4 linked regions of the Homo sapiens genome follow. The protein of the gene in region 3 purifies or fractionates together with the protein of the main gene of each other region. This does not show direct contact. Each region holds a gene or a part of one and is shown on either strand. Other genes may lie near its edges.

The links. Proteins that work in one complex are often made in the same cells at the same time.
Region 1: the proteins of SLC7A4 (region 3) and ABCG2 purify together in Homo sapiens (affinity purification with mass spectrometry; one large-scale study listed by BioGRID and IntAct). This does not show direct contact.
Region 2: the proteins of SLC7A4 (region 3) and NT5C3A purify together in Homo sapiens (affinity purification with mass spectrometry; one large-scale study listed by BioGRID and IntAct). This does not show direct contact.
Region 4: the proteins of SLC7A4 (region 3) and TMEM126A purify together in Homo sapiens (affinity purification with mass spectrometry; one large-scale study listed by BioGRID and IntAct). This does not show direct contact.

The regions. Positions count from the first base shown.
Region 1 is NC_000004.12:88,110,140-88,114,425, reverse strand, and holds part of ABCG2 (broad substrate specificity ATP-binding cassette transporter ABCG2), read left to right. Parts: intron 1-872; coding exon 873-1,123; intron 1,124-4,286.
Region 2 is NC_000007.14:33,028,277-33,032,562, forward strand, and holds part of NT5C3A (cytosolic 5'-nucleotidase 3A), read right to left. Parts: intron 1,439-4,286; exon of another isoform or gene 1,353-1,438; intron 1-1,352. UniProt on the Homo sapiens protein: Nucleotidase which shows specific activity towards cytidine monophosphate (CMP) and 7-methylguanosine monophosphate (m(7)GMP). CMP seems to be the preferred substrate.
Region 3 is NC_000022.11:21,028,834-21,034,643, reverse strand, and holds the start of SLC7A4 (cationic amino acid transporter 4), read left to right. Parts: upstream 1-2,082; 5' UTR 2,083-2,113; exon of another isoform or gene 2,114-2,791; 5' UTR 2,792-2,831; coding exon 2,832-3,813; intron 3,814-4,292; coding exon 4,293-4,933; intron 4,934-5,199; coding exon 5,200-5,308; intron 5,309-5,413; coding exon 5,414-5,589; 3' UTR 5,590-5,810. UniProt on the Homo sapiens protein: Involved in the transport of the cationic amino acids (arginine, lysine and ornithine).
Region 4 is NC_000011.10:85,650,181-85,654,004, forward strand, and holds part of TMEM126A (transmembrane protein 126A), read left to right. Parts: intron 1-68; 5' UTR 69-75; coding exon 76-161; intron 162-3,824. UniProt on the Homo sapiens protein: Protein required for the cotranslational protein quality control in the inner membrane of the mitochondria.

The DNA.
Region 1 (4,286 bases), on a different chromosome or scaffold from region 3:
CAAACTCCTGACCTCAAGTGATCCTCCCGCCTTGGCCTCCCAAAGTGTTGGGATTACAGGTGTGAGCCACCGCCCCTGGCCACGACCAGAATTTTATATTAAGAATTAGAACTATATGGTAAGAAGTCTATTTTAAAAGAATTAAGGTCAAATAGAAAACGTCAGTTTGTTTGCTATATTCATAAGACTATGGCAATAGACAGGCTATTTCTCTGTAGTTTTCTTTTTCTTTCTTTTTCTCTTTTTAAATATACATTTTAATTTATTACTTACTTTATTTATTTTTATAGAGACAGGGTCTCGTTTCGTTGCTCAGGCTGGTCTTGAATTCCTGGCCTCGCATGATCCTCCTGCCTCTGCCCTGCAAAATACTGGGATTACAGGAGTGAGCCACTGTGCCTGGCCTGTTATACTTTTCTAATGACAGAGCTAATAATTTTTTATTTCTATTTTTTCTTTTTTGAGATGGAGTCTTGCTCTCTTGCACAGGCTGGAGTGCAGTGGTGTGATCTCAGCTCACTGCAACCTCCACCTCCCTGGTTCAAGCGATTCTCTTGCCTCAGCCTCCTGAGTGGCTGGGATTACAGGCACGCACCACCACGCCAGGCTAATTTTTTTTGTATTTTCAGTAGAGACAGGGTTTCACCATGTTGGTCAGGCTGGTCTCGAACTCCTGACCTCGTAATCCACCCGCCTCAGCCTCCCAAAGTGCTGAGATTACAGTCATGAGCCGCCGTGCCTGGCCTATTTTTTCTTTCTAAAGCTTTAGAATGAAGGTGTTAGGGAAGCATCCAAGAAAGGGTTCACAGAAAAAATGGGCTAAATTTGTTGTTATCTTGTTTGTGTTTCCTTTTTATCCACTGATTGCAAAGCCACAGAGATCATAGAGCCTTCCAAGCAGGATAAGCCACTCATAGAAAAATTAGCGGAGATTTATGTCAACTCCTCCTTCTACAAAGAGACAAAAGCTGAATTACATCAACTTTCCGGGGGTGAGAAGAAGAAGAAGATCACAGTCTTCAAGGAGATCAGCTACACCACCTCCTTCTGTCATCAACTCAGATGGGTTTCCAAGCGTTCATTCAAAAACTTGCTGGGTAATCCCCAGGCCTCTATAGCTCAGGTAACCAGCAGATTCTTTTGAAATACTCAAATGGGAACAATGTGGTTCTGTTATCATCTGCTTCAGGATATGTTTATCTTCTACCCACCCTTCCAATTATTTGTTATCTTCACTCCACCTGGGATATAGAACCAGTCAGCAGAACAAATAAAGGACAATTAAGTTTTACTTTTGGAAAGCTTCCCTTTTTTTGAGACAGAGTCTCACTCTGTTGCCCAGGCTGGAGTGTGGTGGCATGAACTCAGCTCACTGCAGCCCTGACCTCCCTGGGCTCAAGTGATCCTCACACCTCAGCCTCTTGAATAGCTGAGACTACAGGCGTGTCCCACCACGTCCAGCTAATTTTTGTGTTTTGTGTAGAGATGGGGTTTCGCTGTGTTGCCCAGGCTGGTCTTGAACTCGTGGGTTCAAGCGATTCTCCTGCCTCAGTCTCCCAGAGTGCTAGGATTACAGGTGTGAGCCACCACATCTGGCCAGGTTCTTTTTTTTAGTGGTTTCTTAGACTACCTAACTCAGAATTTTTGTTGATTTAGACAAGCTGTAATGAATAATCTGAGTAGAAAAATTTTTTTTTTGGGAAATTGTGAAAGAAGTGTCAGCCAGTTTTGGGGTTTTCTGGTAGCTGTTCACTTTTGTTCACTGATTCATTCAACTTGTTCTTATAGGGCCTGTGCTGTGCTTTAGGGATGTGAATTCAGTAGTGAACAAAATGGGCAAAAATAAAACTCTGCTCATGGAGCTAATTTTTTGAGGAAGACAGTTATGATAAATAATAAAGAAATTAAATAGATAGCATGTTAGATGGTAGAAGAAACTATGGGGAAAGTTTAAGCAGAGAAGGGGTGGAGAAAGGGGAGGAAGAGAGAGAAGTAGGGAGAAGAAGGTTGATTTGCAGTTGGAATCAGGTGATCAGGGAAACCTTCACCTACTGTCACTGAATACACCTGAAAGGGAGTATGTGCTGGCCACTCCAAGGGAAGAGCCTGTGTGCAAAGTGCTGTTCCTTGTCATTTACCTTCCTTAGACAGTTTACAGGTGAAACAAATGTAGTAAGCAAATTTGAGTTCACAGAACAAGGCTATTCATTGTTAGATTAACTTTCTGTTAATCAAAATGAGATAATGTTTCTTTGTTCCTTGGTTGGCTCTGTGATAGTTGGTGATTATTACTCCTTGTGGTTTTTGTTATTCTTTTCTTTACACATTTTTTTTTTTTTAGAGACTGGGTCTCACTCTGTCACTCATACTGGAGTGCAGTGGTGCAATCATAGCTCACTGCAACCCCAAACTCTTGGCTCAAGCGATCCTCACACTTCAGCCTCCCGAGTAGCTGTGACTACAGCCGTGCACCACAACACCTGGCTGATTTTTTAATTTTTTGTAGAAACAGGGTCTCACTATGTTGTCCTGGTCTGGATCTCCTGGGCTCAAGCGATCCTCCTGCCTTGGCCTCCCAAAGTGCTGGGATCACAGGTGTGAGCCACCATGCCTGGCCTTTTCTGTTATTCTTAACCCCTCTGTCACCCAAAACATTAGTACTCCCAGTTCATTGGTCCATTCTTCAAAGAAGTCAATTTAGCTGGTTATTTTGGGGCTGTTATTTTTATTAACAATATTGAGTTTCTGTTGAGTACTAAAAGATGGCACATTGTTGGCTCTAGTAAAATATTACTGACGTTTAAACTTGTGCATCATAATTTCTATACTTAAGTATATATAAAATATATCTAAGAGCTTGTATCCCTAGTTAAGCCATACTGCTAATTATGTATATATATGTATATATGTATAGCCACATATATGTATGTATAGCCATACTGCTAGTTAAGTATATATATAAATTTATCTAAGAGCTTGTATCCCTAGTTGAACCATATTGCTAATTTCTCCAAATGTTTTTGGTACGTATAATTTGGTGTTTCTGTCAGAACACTGGCACTTTTATATACTATCAATTAAAGGCAAAATTTTATTCTTTGAGCATAGATTTGATATCATTTGGAAATCAGTCTGGTAGGATCAACCTGGGTTACTTATTGTCAACAGTGAAATAATGTAATGAATTGCTTTTTTAGTGTGATGTATGCATTAGATTTTTCTTACTTGGAAAATAACTTGAATTATCTTGCTTCAAAAAATGGTTTATAAATGTCTTGTCCAAATCGCCTATGTGGCAATACTGGAGAGGGCATAATTAGAACACAGAGCTGTTTTTCACACACTGAGATTCTGCATGTTTTGATACTGGGCTTCCTTCCAATGCTAACACCTGGCCTAGTGCCTCTAGGTTTAGCTTCCCTGCCTCATCAGTGAACTCACTTTCACAAAAGGAATTCCAGCCATGTTCAGAGCAGTGGCAGTCTCTTAGATTAAGAATAGGACCTTGTATCTCCCTGAGCATCTGCTTAGCAGGACAAGTTTTGTTTCGATTTGTGAAAAACTGGAATATTAGCTTAGGGCAGGAGTAGGCAATATATATTTTTTTTTTTTGTAAAGGATCAGGTAGTAAATATTTTAGGCTTTGCAGATCAGGTGGTGTTTGTCTCAGGTAGTCAGCTCTACCGTTTTAGTGTGAAAGCAGCCAAGCTCATAACATGAATAAATGAACATGGCAGTATTCCAATAATAAACGAAAGGCTGGCTAGATGCAGTGGTTCCTGCCTATAACCCCAGCACTTTGGGAGACCAAGGCAGAAGGATGCTTGAGGCCAAGAGTGTGAGAACAGCTTGGGCAATAAAGCAAGACCCCCTTTTTTTTTCTGAGACAGAGTCATGCTCTGTCGCCCAGGCTGGAGTGCAGTGGTGCTGTGTCGGCTCACTGTAACCTCCGCCTCCCGGGTTCAAGCAATTCTCCTGCCTCAGCCTCCCGAGTAGCTGGGACTACGGGTGCCCGCCACCATGCCCAGCTAATTTTTGTATTTTTAGTATAGACAGGGTCGCACCATGTTGGCCAGGCTGGCTTCGAACTCCTGACCTCAGGTGGGTCCACCCGCTTCAGTCCCCCACAGTGCTGGGATTACAGATGTGAGCCACTGTGCCTGGCCAAGACCCTATCTTAAAAAAAAAGGTAACTTTCATTTTATTCCAATGAAACATTATACATTGGCACTGAAATTTGAATTTTATATAAATTTTATATTGTGAGAAATATTATTATTCTTGAC
Region 2 (4,286 bases), on a different chromosome or scaffold from region 3:
GGTGTAGGCTGCTACTACAGAGTTATGAAGACTTTAGGGTTGCTCAACAATTTAATCTTAAGTATTATTTCTTGTTACTAGCTATTTTATCACAAATAGAATGAAACTGATTAGAGGAAAAATCAGTACAAGCTCTCATAGCACATGTACAATACAACTAGAAGGAGAAAATTATGCCTCATTTTATAGTCAGTTATACAGCATAGGCAATAATAGTACCTCAAATCCAAGTTCTATACTGGTTTGTACTGGATAATCTTTATTTATATGTTTTTATTCTGGGTATGTTATTAGTAATATTAACATAGTTCATGTGTGTCATGGACATGGTTACAAAAATTCCCTGGACCTTCTATCTTTGCTACAAGAGAATCTCACCACGTAAATCTATCAGATGCCGTGTTGTTCCTACATAATGGGCAAGAGTAGAAAAATCAGAAAAAGGATGGACTGTCTTCCAAAGACTGGAAGATGATAACGAAAGTGTAGAGGAAAGAGGCCGGGCACAGTGGCTCACGCCTGTAATCCCAGCACTTCAGGAGGTCGAGGTGGGCAGATCACGAGGTCAGGAGATCGAGACCATCCTGGCTAACATGGTGAAATACTGTCTCTACTGAAAACATAAAAAATTAGCTGGGCGTGGTGGCGGGTGCCTGTAGTCCCAGCTAGTTGGGAGGCTGAGGCAGGAGAATGGCGTAAACCCGGGAGGCAGAGCTTGAAAAAAAAAAGAAAGTGTAGAGAAAAGACAAATGCTAACATTAAAATTTTCTCCATGGATGAAAGATCTACCACCTACAATATATTTAATTTTAAAAAGCCATATTTAAGTAGGATGACCTGCAATGCAACTAACCTTGATGTAGTAATCCTTTTAACTCAACTGGATGAGTTTCAATGGCTTAAAGGTTATCTATGTATTTTATAGTGATTTTTCAATAGATGGAAAGGCAGATAGGCACTGGTTCCTATTTTTTTTTTTCATACATTAACCCATTCACTCGCCTAACCAATATTTACCATGTGTCTACTTTGTGCCACACACTCTTGCTAAATGCTAGGGATATGATGATGAGTAGTATTTACTCTGCTTTTCTGCTGAGTTTTAGGGACCACTGCTGTTTTGGAATATCACTTCTGTAACTCCCTTACAAATACCTCAGCTAGTAAGTTTATCTCTTGACAACTAATTTCTGTTCTTACCTCAGCCTTAACTGGCAGATGCACAGCAATCAGCATATGTTTGATTCAATAACCAATCCATTATGGTGAAAGCAACACAGGATATATATCATAGACTATTTTTTCACCAAAAAAATTAAATATTTGATTTCAGTGTACCCAAGATGTCTTACCTCAGGCAAATCACAGCTTCAAGTTTTTGATAACGGATAGGAGAATCACACCAAGACCACTTCGAAGAAGGCTGGTTTCTGCTACACTAACAAATGTAAGATTGGTTTATTTTATTTTTATAGAGATAAGGTCTTGCTGTGTTTCCCAGGCTGGTCTCAAACTCCTGGGCTCAAGTGATCTCCCCGCTTCAGCCTCCCAAAGTGCTGGGATTACAGGTGTAAGCCACCATGCCCAGCCAATACTGGTTTACTTTAAATCACAATGGATGAAAGAGAACCAGTAGCTAAAGGCATTGGTGGCTCCTGTGCAACATACAACCATTCATTTTCATTGTGTATTCATAAGTAGTGAATACACAAATGGCACGGGAGTAAAATAATGATGAAATAGGTATAAGAAATATAAAAATGACCATTCTATCTGTCTTGGGTTATATAGTATACTATACTCCTCTCCTGCAATACACAATTAATGTCACTGATCTATATGAGAAATACTTCACAAGAACTTGAGATATGGGGTATTTTACTCAAATACTTTACAATATAGCCTAAGAAAGAGAATCAAAGACTCCTGTATGGAATATGTCAAAGAGTATCATAATATAAGCACACTGTAGAAGTATGATGAAATACATCACATACTTTTTGTTGTGGTGGTTGTTGTTGAACATGCCCCAACTGTTGCATGAGATCACATACTTTTGTTACCTCCACAAAGTCCTTCTGTCTATATCCCTCTTATAAAAACACAGACTTGGTTTGGTGGCATATAAATAATGATACTTCAAATTTGAAGGGCAAGGTATTTTGAATTGTCTGAAAAATTTTCAATTTGATTATGATAAAATTTTATGAAAAATAAATAAGAAGCTAAAAATTTCCATCATTTGTGATAAAAAGAGAACAAATTCATTTTATGGTAAAGCCGCAGCGTAAAATGTTGGGGAGGGAGCAATGCCTTCCTGAAAAGAATCAGGGTATGTTGGTTGATTGATGCCAATCTGAATCAACACCAAAAATGATTAAGAAAGACCTAAAATTCACTTATTTTGACCAATACTTAATATATTTATAGAGATGAAATGGATTTCAAAGTTATGCCATTTTATCCACAACTCAATTGTTTAATATTAGATTTGATATGATCTTGTGGATACACTGGGATAAGATAAAAATGTGAAGCTCTGGCCAGGCGTGGTGGCTCAGGCCTGTAATCCCAGCACTTTGGGAGGCTGAGGCGGGCGGATCACGAGGTCAGGAGATCGAGACCATCCTGGCTAACACGGTGAAACCCTGTCTCTACTAAAAATACAAAAAATTAGCCAGGCGAGGTGGCGGGCGCCTGTAGGCCCAGCTACTCTGGAGGCTGAGGCAGGAGAATGGCATGAACCCCGGGGGGCGGAGCCTGCAGTGAGCCGAGATCGCGCCACTGCACTCCAGCCTGGGCGACAGCGAGACTCTGCCTCAAAAAAAAACAAAAAAAAAAAAAAAGAGAGAAGCTCCATAGTACAGTTACCAAATTTCTGGGTGTGGCTTGGTATCATCAATCCAATGATAATATTCCAGACTAGGGATAATCCTAATTTCCAGGATGAGATTATGACAACTTCAAAGTTTAATTCTGTTTGAACTAGATTTCAAATTATATTAAATTTTGATTAAAAAAGAAAACACGGCCGGGCATGGTGGCTCATGCCTGTAATCCCAGCACTTTAGGAGGCCGAGGCAGGAGGATCACTTGGGCTCAGCAGCTCGAGACCAGGCTGGGCAACGTGGCAAAACCCTGTCTCTACAAACAATACAAAAATTAGCCGGGCATGGTGGTGCACATCTGTAGTCCCAGATACTCGGAGGCTAAGGTGGGAGGATTGCCTGAGCCTGGGAGGCAGAGGTTGCAGTGAGCTGACATCATGCCACTGCACTCCAGCCTGGGTGACACAGTGAGACCCTGTCTCAAAAAAAAAATAAATAAATAAAAAGATTTTGTATTAAAAAACACACATAAATACATTATATTTAAAATAATGAATTATTATTCTTAAACTAAAAATAAAAAACAAAATAAACTAAGGGTTATACAATCCACAATGTACAGAGAAAACAATTCATATTTTAACCAAGACTAAAAAAATTACTTGTACTTTTAATTTATAAATATGTATGTTCATCTATATGAGTTTCATTTATTTATTATTTTTAAAATTTATTTTTGGCCGGGCACGGTGGCTGACGCCTGGAATCCCAGCACTTAGGGAGGCCAAGGCCAGTGGATCACCTAAGGTCAGGAGTTCAAGACCAGCCTGGCCAACATAGTGAAACCCTGTCTCTATTAAAAATACAAAAATTAGCTGGGCATGGTAGCACATGCCTGTAATCCCAGCTACTCTGGAGGGTGAGACAGGAGAATCGCTTGAACCCGGGAGGCAGAGGTTGCAGTGAGCCGAGATGGCACCACTACACTCTAGCCCAAGTGACAGAGCGAGACTCTGTCTCAAAAACAAACAAAAAAAGGCCAGGCACAGTGGCTCATGCCTCTAATACCAGCACTTTGGGAGGCCAAGGCAGGCAGATCACCAGAGGTCGGGAGTTCGAGATCAGCCTGGGTAACATGGTGAAACCCCATCTCTACTAAATATACAAAATTAGCTGGGCATGGTGGCATACACCTGTAACCCTGTTACTTGGGAGGCTGAGGCAAGAGAATTGCTTGAACCCAGGAGGCGGAGGTTGCAGTGAGCCAGGATTTCGCCACTGCACTCCAAGCCTGGGTGACAGAGTGAGACTCGGTCTCCAAAAAAAAAAAAAAAAAAATTTACTTTTATGTTTTTTTATTTTTATTTTTTGAGGCAGGGTCTTGCTCTGTCACCCAGGCTGGAGGGCAGTGGCGTGATCTTGGCTCACTGCAACTTTCCCTCCTGGGCTCAGGTGATC
Region 3 (5,810 bases):
TTTTGGCTATTCTGGATCCCTTGCATTTCCATATGAATTTTTTGTTTTTTGTTTTTTATTTTTTTTTGAGACAGAGTCTTGCTCTGTCACCCACGCTGGAGTGCAATGGCGCCATCTCAGCTCATTGCAACCTCTGCCTCCCGGGTTCAAGCGATTCTCCTGCCTCAGCCTCCCAAGTAGCTGCGATTACAGGCACCCACCACTTATTTTAATTTATTTATTTAGTAGTTTTGGAGACAGGGTCTTGCTTTGCCACCTAGGCTGAAGTGCAGTGACAGGATCATAGCTCACTGCAGCCTCAGACTCCTGGGTTCAAGTGATCCTCTCACCTCAGCCTCCCAAAGTGATGGGATTACCGGTGTGAGCCACTGGGCCTAGCCAAATACTGTATTTTTGATCGACATTTGGTTGAAAAATATCTATGTATTAGTAAACCTGTGTTGTTCAAGAGTCCACTGTGTTTTGCTGGGGATTTCTACATCTATATTCATAAGGGATTTTGGTCTGTGGTTTTCTTTTCTTGTGATGTCTTTGTTGAGTTTAGTGTCAGGGTAATCCTGGCCTTGCAGAATGAGTTAGAAAGTTTTTGTTTCCTGGTGGTTTGTCTTCACTGCATCACTGTGGGGTTGCTCTGTGTAGCTGTCTCACTCAGTAGTGAGGGAAATATCTCTGGAAATGTACAATTTACTGCATCAGCCCTGCTTAGTCTCACATATCCGTTGTATGTTGGTGCCTGTGGCAGAGGGTGTGGTGTCACACCTTCTCCAGGTAGATAAAAAGTCAACACTCCAAAACACTGGACACCAGCAATAAGGCAGTCATTGGTAAGGCCTTTGGGGAGCTCCCATTACAAATCTGCCTAACCCTCTGGCCTGAAGTGCCTAGACTTTTGTGGTGACATTTCAGGACAAGGGACGTCTGCTCAGGCAACACAGGGATGGGGTAAGGAAGCTACCATCCCACCGGAAGTGGGAGCCATCTGAGAAGTTCCTCAAGACAATACCAGCCAAATATTAGAAGGTATTGGCATTCTGGCCGAGGCAGAATGTTCCAAATTGGCACCATCTTGTCTGGGAGTCCATCATCCTGTCACCAGCCCAATAGGCTGGATAGGCTGCAGATGCTCCTAAGATTCCATTCCACAAACCACATGTAAGCCTGAACACATGTCTAGTATAGCGTTCTGGGGAGGCCAGGAGCCATGGTTCATGAATGTAATCACAGCCTTTTGGGAGGCCAAGAGTTCGAGACCAGCCCGGGCAGCATAGTGAGACCCAGTCTCTAAAAAAATTAAAATTAAAAAATTAGCCAGGTGTATTGTTGCATAGCTGCCTGCCTGGGGCGTGGGGCACTGGAATGCAGTACTCAGGACACAGTGGCTGTCGCTGATAAACACAAGTGGGGATCTGCTATTGGGGTCCCATAGGGCCCTCCCGGCCTGCCAGAGGTGCCTAGGCTAGGAAGGGCTGCCACTGGGGTCTGAGGAGCTCTACTCCCCCACAGGAGGGCTGCAGGCTGGTCCCAGAAGCTGCTTGCTTCCTTGCAGGACGTGGTAGCTGCAGGCTCAAAACAGCCAGAATGCATTCCCTCAATTCGCAGAACTCTCTCAAAAGGCTGCAGTCTCTTCCATTGTAAGAGTAGAGGTCAGGGACCGCCCCAGGCCACTCTGCCAGACCCATGTCTTCATCTAACTCACTGTGCCTGAAGCTCACATGACGGTGCTGTGGGGCCTGTCTGGGGCCCAGCTGGGTGGGGTTCATGTACTGGGGTGAGGGATCAAGAAGGGTGTCCGCTGCAGTAGAAAGAAGGTGGGCTGCGGACTTTCAGACGTGGCCCTTAACCTCCCCGAACTGACCTAGGCTAGTCAGTCAGCCGGCGGTCTGACCTTCTCCATCTGTGACTGAGTCACAGTCACAGGGCTTCCCTAGACCCCGGTGAGCTCCGGTAACGACCTTGCGAGGTCGGGCAGAGTGGGCAGGGTGAAATATCTGGGTGTGTGGCAGCGGGTGGGGCCGCGCGGGGGGCCTGGGATGGGGGCGGGCCCTGCGCTCGGCGCCGGCGAACTGGGCGGGCTCAGTGCTCAGAGCGGAGGCAGCGGCTGCGGCAGCAGCAGGTGGGTTGCAGCAGATCCTGCGGGGACGGGGACTGGGACGGGCTCAGGCCCAAGAACAGGCGAAGGCGCAGGTGTCCGGGGACGGGGGCGCGGCGGAGCAGGCTCTAGCAGCAGCGGCGTGTCGGACATGGGGAGGTGTGCGGGCCCAGGGCGCCCCTGCATTCCGCCTGGCGCGCGGATACCCCAGCCTGGCCACGGGTGCAGGGGCGGGGGTGTATGTAGCCGCCACTGTCTGTCTGTGGCCAGGTGGCTGCCTGGGCCACACCCGCCCCGACGCAGAGCCGCGGCTCCTGTTCCGGGTCCGGCTCGACTCTGGGGAAGCCTCGGTTTCACCTGGCTCTGGGACCCCACCACTGAGCCGTTCCCAGCCTCTCACCCTGCTCCCCCTGGAGCTGCTCCCTCCCCACCCCTCAGGGCCACCGAGCGGGTGAGCAGGTGGGGCCTCACCAGGCCTCCTTTGCTGCCTGGGATGCAGACAGGGCCTCCAGGCTTCCTGTGACCTCCTGCCCACAGGTTCTGACACCTGCCCCATTCCAGCTCTCCAGCAGGCCCCTGGTGAGGGTGTCCAGGTCCCCAGGTCAGGGACAGAGAGAGGACTGGGGGTGGTCAGACCAGGAGGGATGGAAGGCTGGTCAGGCCCCGGCTACGCATCCTGTCATTCCCCTCTGGCCCTAGCAGGTTCCAGTAGCTGGCTCGGTGCTCTTCTCGGCCACCTGCCATGGCCCGGGGGCTGCCCACCATTGCTAGCCTGGCACGCTTATGCCAGAAGCTGAACCGCCTGAAGCCGCTGGAGGACTCCACCATGGAGACGTCACTGCGGCGCTGCCTGTCCACGCTGGACCTGACTCTTCTGGGCGTGGGTGGCATGGTGGGCTCGGGTCTCTACGTGCTCACAGGTGCCGTGGCCAAGGAGGTGGCTGGCCCTGCTGTGCTCTTGTCCTTCGGTGTGGCCGCTGTGGCCTCCCTGCTGGCAGCCCTATGCTATGCAGAATTTGGGGCACGTGTGCCACGCACGGGCTCTGCCTACCTGTTCACCTACGTATCCATGGGCGAGCTGTGGGCCTTCCTCATCGGCTGGAATGTTCTCCTCGAATACATCATCGGTGGCGCCGCCGTGGCCCGTGCCTGGAGTGGCTACCTGGACTCTATGTTCAGCCACAGCATCCGCAACTTCACTGAGACCCACGTGGGTTCTTGGCAGGTGCCCCTCCTGGGCCACTACCCGGACTTCCTGGCTGCTGGCATCATCCTCCTGGCCTCTGCCTTTGTCTCCTGTGGAGCCCGCGTGTCCTCCTGGCTCAATCACACCTTCTCGGCCATCAGCCTGCTTGTCATTCTCTTCATTGTCATCCTGGGCTTCATCCTGGCCCAGCCTCACAACTGGAGCGCTGACGAAGGCGGCTTTGCACCCTTCGGCTTCTCCGGCGTCATGGCCGGCACTGCCTCCTGCTTCTATGCTTTCGTGGGCTTCGACGTCATTGCCGCCTCCAGTGAGGAGGCCCAGAACCCACGGCGGTCTGTGCCTCTGGCCATCGCCATCTCGCTTGCCATTGCAGCTGGTGCCTACATCCTTGTCTCCACCGTGCTAACCCTCATGGTGCCCTGGCACAGCCTGGACCCCGACTCAGCGCTTGCAGATGCCTTCTACCAGCGGGGCTACAGGTGGGCTGGCTTCATCGTGGCAGCTGGCTCCATCTGCGGTGAGAGACTCTTCCTGGGCAGGGTGGCAGGGAAAAGAGCAAGGGGGACCTTGTCCTCAGATTCTTGGGGAATGCACCTTCAACTGGGGCTGTTTTACTAGTTGCATAATGGGGCAAGGAAAGTGCTAATTATTAGAAACTCTTCACTTCAAAAAAAGTTTCTTCAGAAACTTTGGAAGGGACCGCCCCACACATGGTCCATAGCATATTAGTTCTGGGCATGTCCTTATAGATTATTTCCTAGGCAGAGGGACTCAGCCCTCATCCGATGCTCCAGTGGGCCTGTGACCTAACCCAGATGTCCTGTTCTTGGGCAAAGCGCTGACAATCTATTACTCCTACACAAACTCATGCTTACTCTGAGAGCCCAGACAAGCTCATGCCCTTGTTCCCAAGGAGCCACCCATGCACCGACCCCCAGCAGAGGCCCCTGGTGGGCTTCTCCGCCATGCTGACCCTCCCCACTCTCTCTGCTACAGCCATGAACACCGTCCTGCTCAGCCTCCTCTTCTCCCTGCCACGCATTGTCTATGCCATGGCCGCCGATGGGCTCTTCTTCCAGGTGTTTGCCCATGTGCACCCCCGGACACAGGTGCCTGTGGCGGGCACCCTGGCGTTCGGGCTCCTCACGGCCTTCCTGGCACTGCTGCTGGACCTGGAGTCGCTGGTTCAGTTCCTGTCCCTTGGCACACTCCTGGCCTACACATTCGTGGCCACCAGTATCATTGTGCTGCGCTTCCAGAAGTCTTCCCCGCCCAGCTCCCCAGGCCCAGCCAGCCCTGGCCCCCTGACCAAGCAGCAGAGCTCCTTCTCAGACCACCTACAGCTGGTGGGCACTGTACACGCCTCCGTCCCTGAGCCAGGGGAGCTGAAGCCAGCCCTGAGGCCCTACCTGGGCTTCTTGGATGGGTACAGCCCTGGAGCAGTGGTGACTTGGGCGCTTGGCGTTATGTTGGCCTCAGCCATCACCATAGGCTGCGTGCTTGTCTTTGGGAACTCGACCCTGCACCTCCCACACTGGGGTTACATCCTGCTGCTCCTGCTCACCAGTGTCATGTTTCTGCTCAGCCTCCTTGTCCTGGGGGCTCACCAGCAACAGTATCGGGAAGACTTATTTCAGGTACCTCCCCTAGCCAACACCCACTCACACTCGGCCCAGGCAGCTGCCTCCCCTTCCCCCACTACCATCCCAGAATGAACAAGTCTCACGGGGCTGGGGAGGACCACACACCCATCCCGCACCCCTTTCTGCATGGTGAGTGAGCACATGTCTCCACAATCTCCCGTGAGGAACAAAGGCTCTATGGATTCCCGAGAAAGTGAGCCCTGGGCTGGCAGATCTTTCCTGCAGCCCGGCCCAGCCCTGCCCTGCCTCTGCCTCCTCAGATCCCCATGGTTCCCCTGATTCCAGCCCTGAGCATCGTCCTCAACATCTGCCTCATGCTGAAACTTAGCTATCTGACCTGGGTGCGCTTCTCCATCTGGCTGCTGATGGGTGAGTGGGGGCCAGGCTGGGACCGGGGTCAGGAGGAGGGCAAAGAGGACAGGAAGGGCTGGAACCTGTACCTCAGGCTCATGCCCTGCCTCCTGCCCTGTCTAGGACTTGCAGTGTATTTCGGCTATGGCATCCGGCATAGCAAGGAGAACCAGCGGGAGCTGCCAGGGCTGAACTCCACACACTACGTGGTATTCCCCAGGGGCAGCCTGGAGGAGACAGTGCAGGCTATGCAGCCCCCCAGCCAGGCACCAGCACAGGACCCTGGCCATATGGAGTAGCTGATCAGCCCACACTTGCCCCGCCCTCCCACACCTGCTTGGGAGGCCAGAGAGGCCAGACAAGCCGAGAGCCCCTTCTGTTGTGGGCAGCCTGGGTTTGCAGGCCTGCACAGGCTGGGGAGTCCTCAGGACCTTAGGACCTTCATCCAGGGGCTGGGCTTCGGGTCTTCAGGAGTGGGCCTTGGCTGGTGCTGGTGCCATGGACTCTGCCCAGAGCCTTC
Region 4 (3,824 bases), on a different chromosome or scaffold from region 3:
AGTCTTCAGAAGGTTTTTAAAATTCTTTGTATAAATTCTTGAGAAATGATATCTTCATGTTTTTTAAGGCTCAAAATGGAAAATCATAAATCCAATAATAAGGAAAACATAACAATTGTTGATATATCCAGAAAAATTAACCAGCTTCCAGAAGCAGAAAGGTAAGATCCCTTCTTAATTTAAAAACACCTTTTATCAGGTGGATTTTCACCATTGATTCATTATCTCAAGTTTATCTGGTTTGAGTATAAACAACATGGAATGTGAGAAGGAAATTGCCCTTTTCTTGCCTGGATGAGAGCGTTTAACCATTTTGCTCAACATCACATAGCTAATTGTGGAAGGTGAGGCTGGAACTCATGTCTTTGGACATACCTAATTGTATAATGTTTTGAGTTTTTCCATTAGGCTTGGAGTATAGTAAAATGTAAACATTTACAGACCCATTTAAATAACAAAACTTTAACTTTTAAAATGTCTTTTTTTTCCCAGTTCATTCTGTCAGTATGCTTACCAGTCTAAGAGTACCATAGAACACACATAGCAAGATAGAGAATGTCAGAGAAATAGGATCATGGCTAAAGATCTTTAAGATATTATTAAAGAGGGCCAGGCATGGTGGCTCACGCCAGTAATCCCAGCACTTTGGGAGGCCAGGGTGGGCAGATCACCTGAGGTCAGGAGTTCAGACCAGCCTGGCCAACATGGTGAAACCTCATCTCTACTAAAAGTACAAAAATTAGCTGGGCGTGGTGGCAGGTGCCTGTAATCCCAGCTACTTGGGAGGCTGAGGCAGGAGAATTGCTTGAACCAGGGAGGCGGAGGTTGCAGTGAGCCGAGATCACACCACTACACCCCAGCCTGGGCGACAAGAGTGAGGATCCGTCTCAAAAAAAAAAAAAAAAAAAAAAGATATTAAAGAGAAAAACCAATATAGGGAACATACTAATCTTTGCCAGGCAGCTAATGTGTACTTCCACAAAATGTCTTACACTTTGTTGACAGTCAAGAAGGTCTCTCTGACTATAAAAGGATGAAAAGCAGCCACCTGGGAAGGAGAGAGGGACAGTGTCTTAAGTAGAGGGAATGGCATATGCCTAGCCACAAGATAGCCAAGGCTTGTGGTACTTGAGTAACCATTGTTACCGAAGTACTAAGGAAGTGGGAGTAAGGACCAGGAATAGTTTTGAGCAGGGGGATGATGTTAGCATTTCTAAAGAACATTCCAGCTGCTTTTTGGAAAGCAGATTTGAGGTAGGAAAGAAAGGAAACACAAATACCAGTAGAAAAAATGGCACAGTAATCCTGGTGAGTGGAGATGGTAGGGGTGGTGACAGCTGAGATGAAAAGAGGATGCATTTAAAATACATTCTGGAAGCATAATCTTGCTATCTTCAGGAATAGAAACTGAACAAATCCCCATCTTGCTGCCACTTACCATCTTAATCAGGGAGAACCCATAAATCAAGACCAGTAGTGTTCAGAACAAGGATCTCCAAGGGGAAGAAAAAAAAGGCCAGTAGTAAGAACTTGGTGAGATCTTAAAAGCTCTTTCACCCCCCCTCCCCACACTCCAACTCCACTCCCTTCTAGTTGTTTTCCTGAGGTAACGGAAAACCTTTTAAAGCAAAAAAGGAACTATGTCCATGTTTCCAGGCCAGCAAGATAGGGAAAGTGAGAAAGACTAATAAAAGAGTAGTAGGCTGGGCATGGTGGCTCACACCTGTAATCCCAGCACTTTGGGAGGCGGAGGCGGGCTGGTCACCTGAGGTCAGGAGTTTAAGACTAGCCTGGCCAACATGGCGAAACCCTATCTCTACTAAAAATACAAAAATTAGCCAGATGTGGGGGCACGTGCCTGTAGTCCTACCCACTGGAGAAGCTGAGGCACGAGAATTGTTTGAACCTGGGAGGCGGATGTTGCATGGAGCTGAGATCATGCCACTGCACTCCAGCCTGGGCGACAGAGCAAGACTGTCTCAAAAAAGAGTAGATGGTGGCAGCTTTGAAGAGAAGAAAGCAGTCTGTCACTGGGTTCTTTACCAAATTAGAAAGAATACCTGGAACTGCAAAGTAAAATTTAGTTTAGAGGCAATAAATGTTTCAATCATTGGCATCTAAACTAGGCAGATTACAGTGTCCTGTTATCTTTGCCTTGTTCCTATTTTTTCTCTTCATTCCCATTTTATTTTCTAAGTTTAAATCTTCATTTCTTCTTGGATTATTAATCAGGTATTTAATGGTTACTTGGCATGTCCTTCAGTGTATGGAGCTTTCTTAATATCAAAAACTTCATTTTCTGATCTACAGCAATACTTTCACGTACATGTTTGTCATTTGTTAAATTTGGGCTATTTCATGTCTATTTCTTGTGTATGTCTTATCAAAAAGTCATGAGTTTTTAGTTGGTATAGGTACTTTTTTGGAAAACTGGCAAGGGGCTGCTAGGTAACAATTTTGTGCTAACTTTTAATTAACTAAACATTTTGACCTTAGCTATGGGAAAAATCTGGTTGGGAGAGAGCAAAGTTTGCTATGCAGATTTCACTTGTACTACTTTTTATTTATTTGTATATGTAACATACTTGTAAACAAATGGACTTATATATAACATGTATATATGTATTTTATATATATTATATATACATACAGGCAAATTGTTTACCTGAGCATTGGGATTTAAAATGGGGATAATATACATTTCACATGATTTTTATGATGAAATATTTTAGAGGAAGTGTTCAAGTTTTTTATTCCAACCCCCACAAAAAAAAAATAGGCTTTTCACATTTACATGGTTTTTGTGGTTGGTAGGTTCTCCAGACTGTCATCACTAATTATAATCTATGTACTCCAAGTTCCTGAACTGCCACTGTCTTGTACCACCATTACCATTTTCATAGACTTCTGTTATATCTCGTTTACATCTCTTTCTTCTCCAGTAATATTTAACTATGTTAACCTTGAAGATAGAAGGTAATTTTTTGTGCCTTTAGCACTAAGTCTGCTGCATACAGTGGGGTTCTCAATGAGTGACAGGCATCATGATTGCAAAGTGTCAGATAAGAAAAGCAATACCTTATACAACGTAGGAAGCTGAGTTCCTAGAAAAGCTATTTTAAGATGAGTGTAAGCCATAGAAGTTAGAGGAGGTACTCTGTGGCTACTTTGGCTAGTTAAGAGTAATGAAAATCTTAAGACTGTATTGTAGATGGCAATGTAAGTGGTAAAAAAGCTAAGTCGTAGTCTGAAAAGTTTGGAGTCAGTATTTTCAATATTCAGCAATCATGTTAGGTATTACTTTTTCCCAAAACTAAAGAATGCATAGGACATAAGTTAAAAGTTCATACATAACCTGGCTTCAAATCCAGTTCTACCACTACCTGAAAACATCAGTTTATTTCTCATCAATGGGTTGTTATAAAGTACCTAGCATAGGGTATTGCTTAAATGTTAATACTCCCAATCCTGACACTAATGTTTCAGGGAAGAGTGAAAGAAATCACATTAACTCCACATTATTGAACATCTTCTGTGTCAGGCTGAATACATCTTTGTATCCATTGTCTTCTGGTTGTTTAAAGACTAGTGTAGAAGCCTGACATGTAAATCGGTGATTATATAAGATAGTACTGTCTTGTAATGTGTTGTGCTAGAGAGGTTAAGTATTAATTATTATGGGAGCTCAGGAGAGGCACCCACTGGCTGCTGGGAGAAGAGCAAAAACCTATATATAAAGCAATTTTTAAGATTTTGGTTCTATAAGGGATAGATGTCGTATCCAGTTAGTGTATTCCCAAAGTCCTATAACACATGTCAAGATC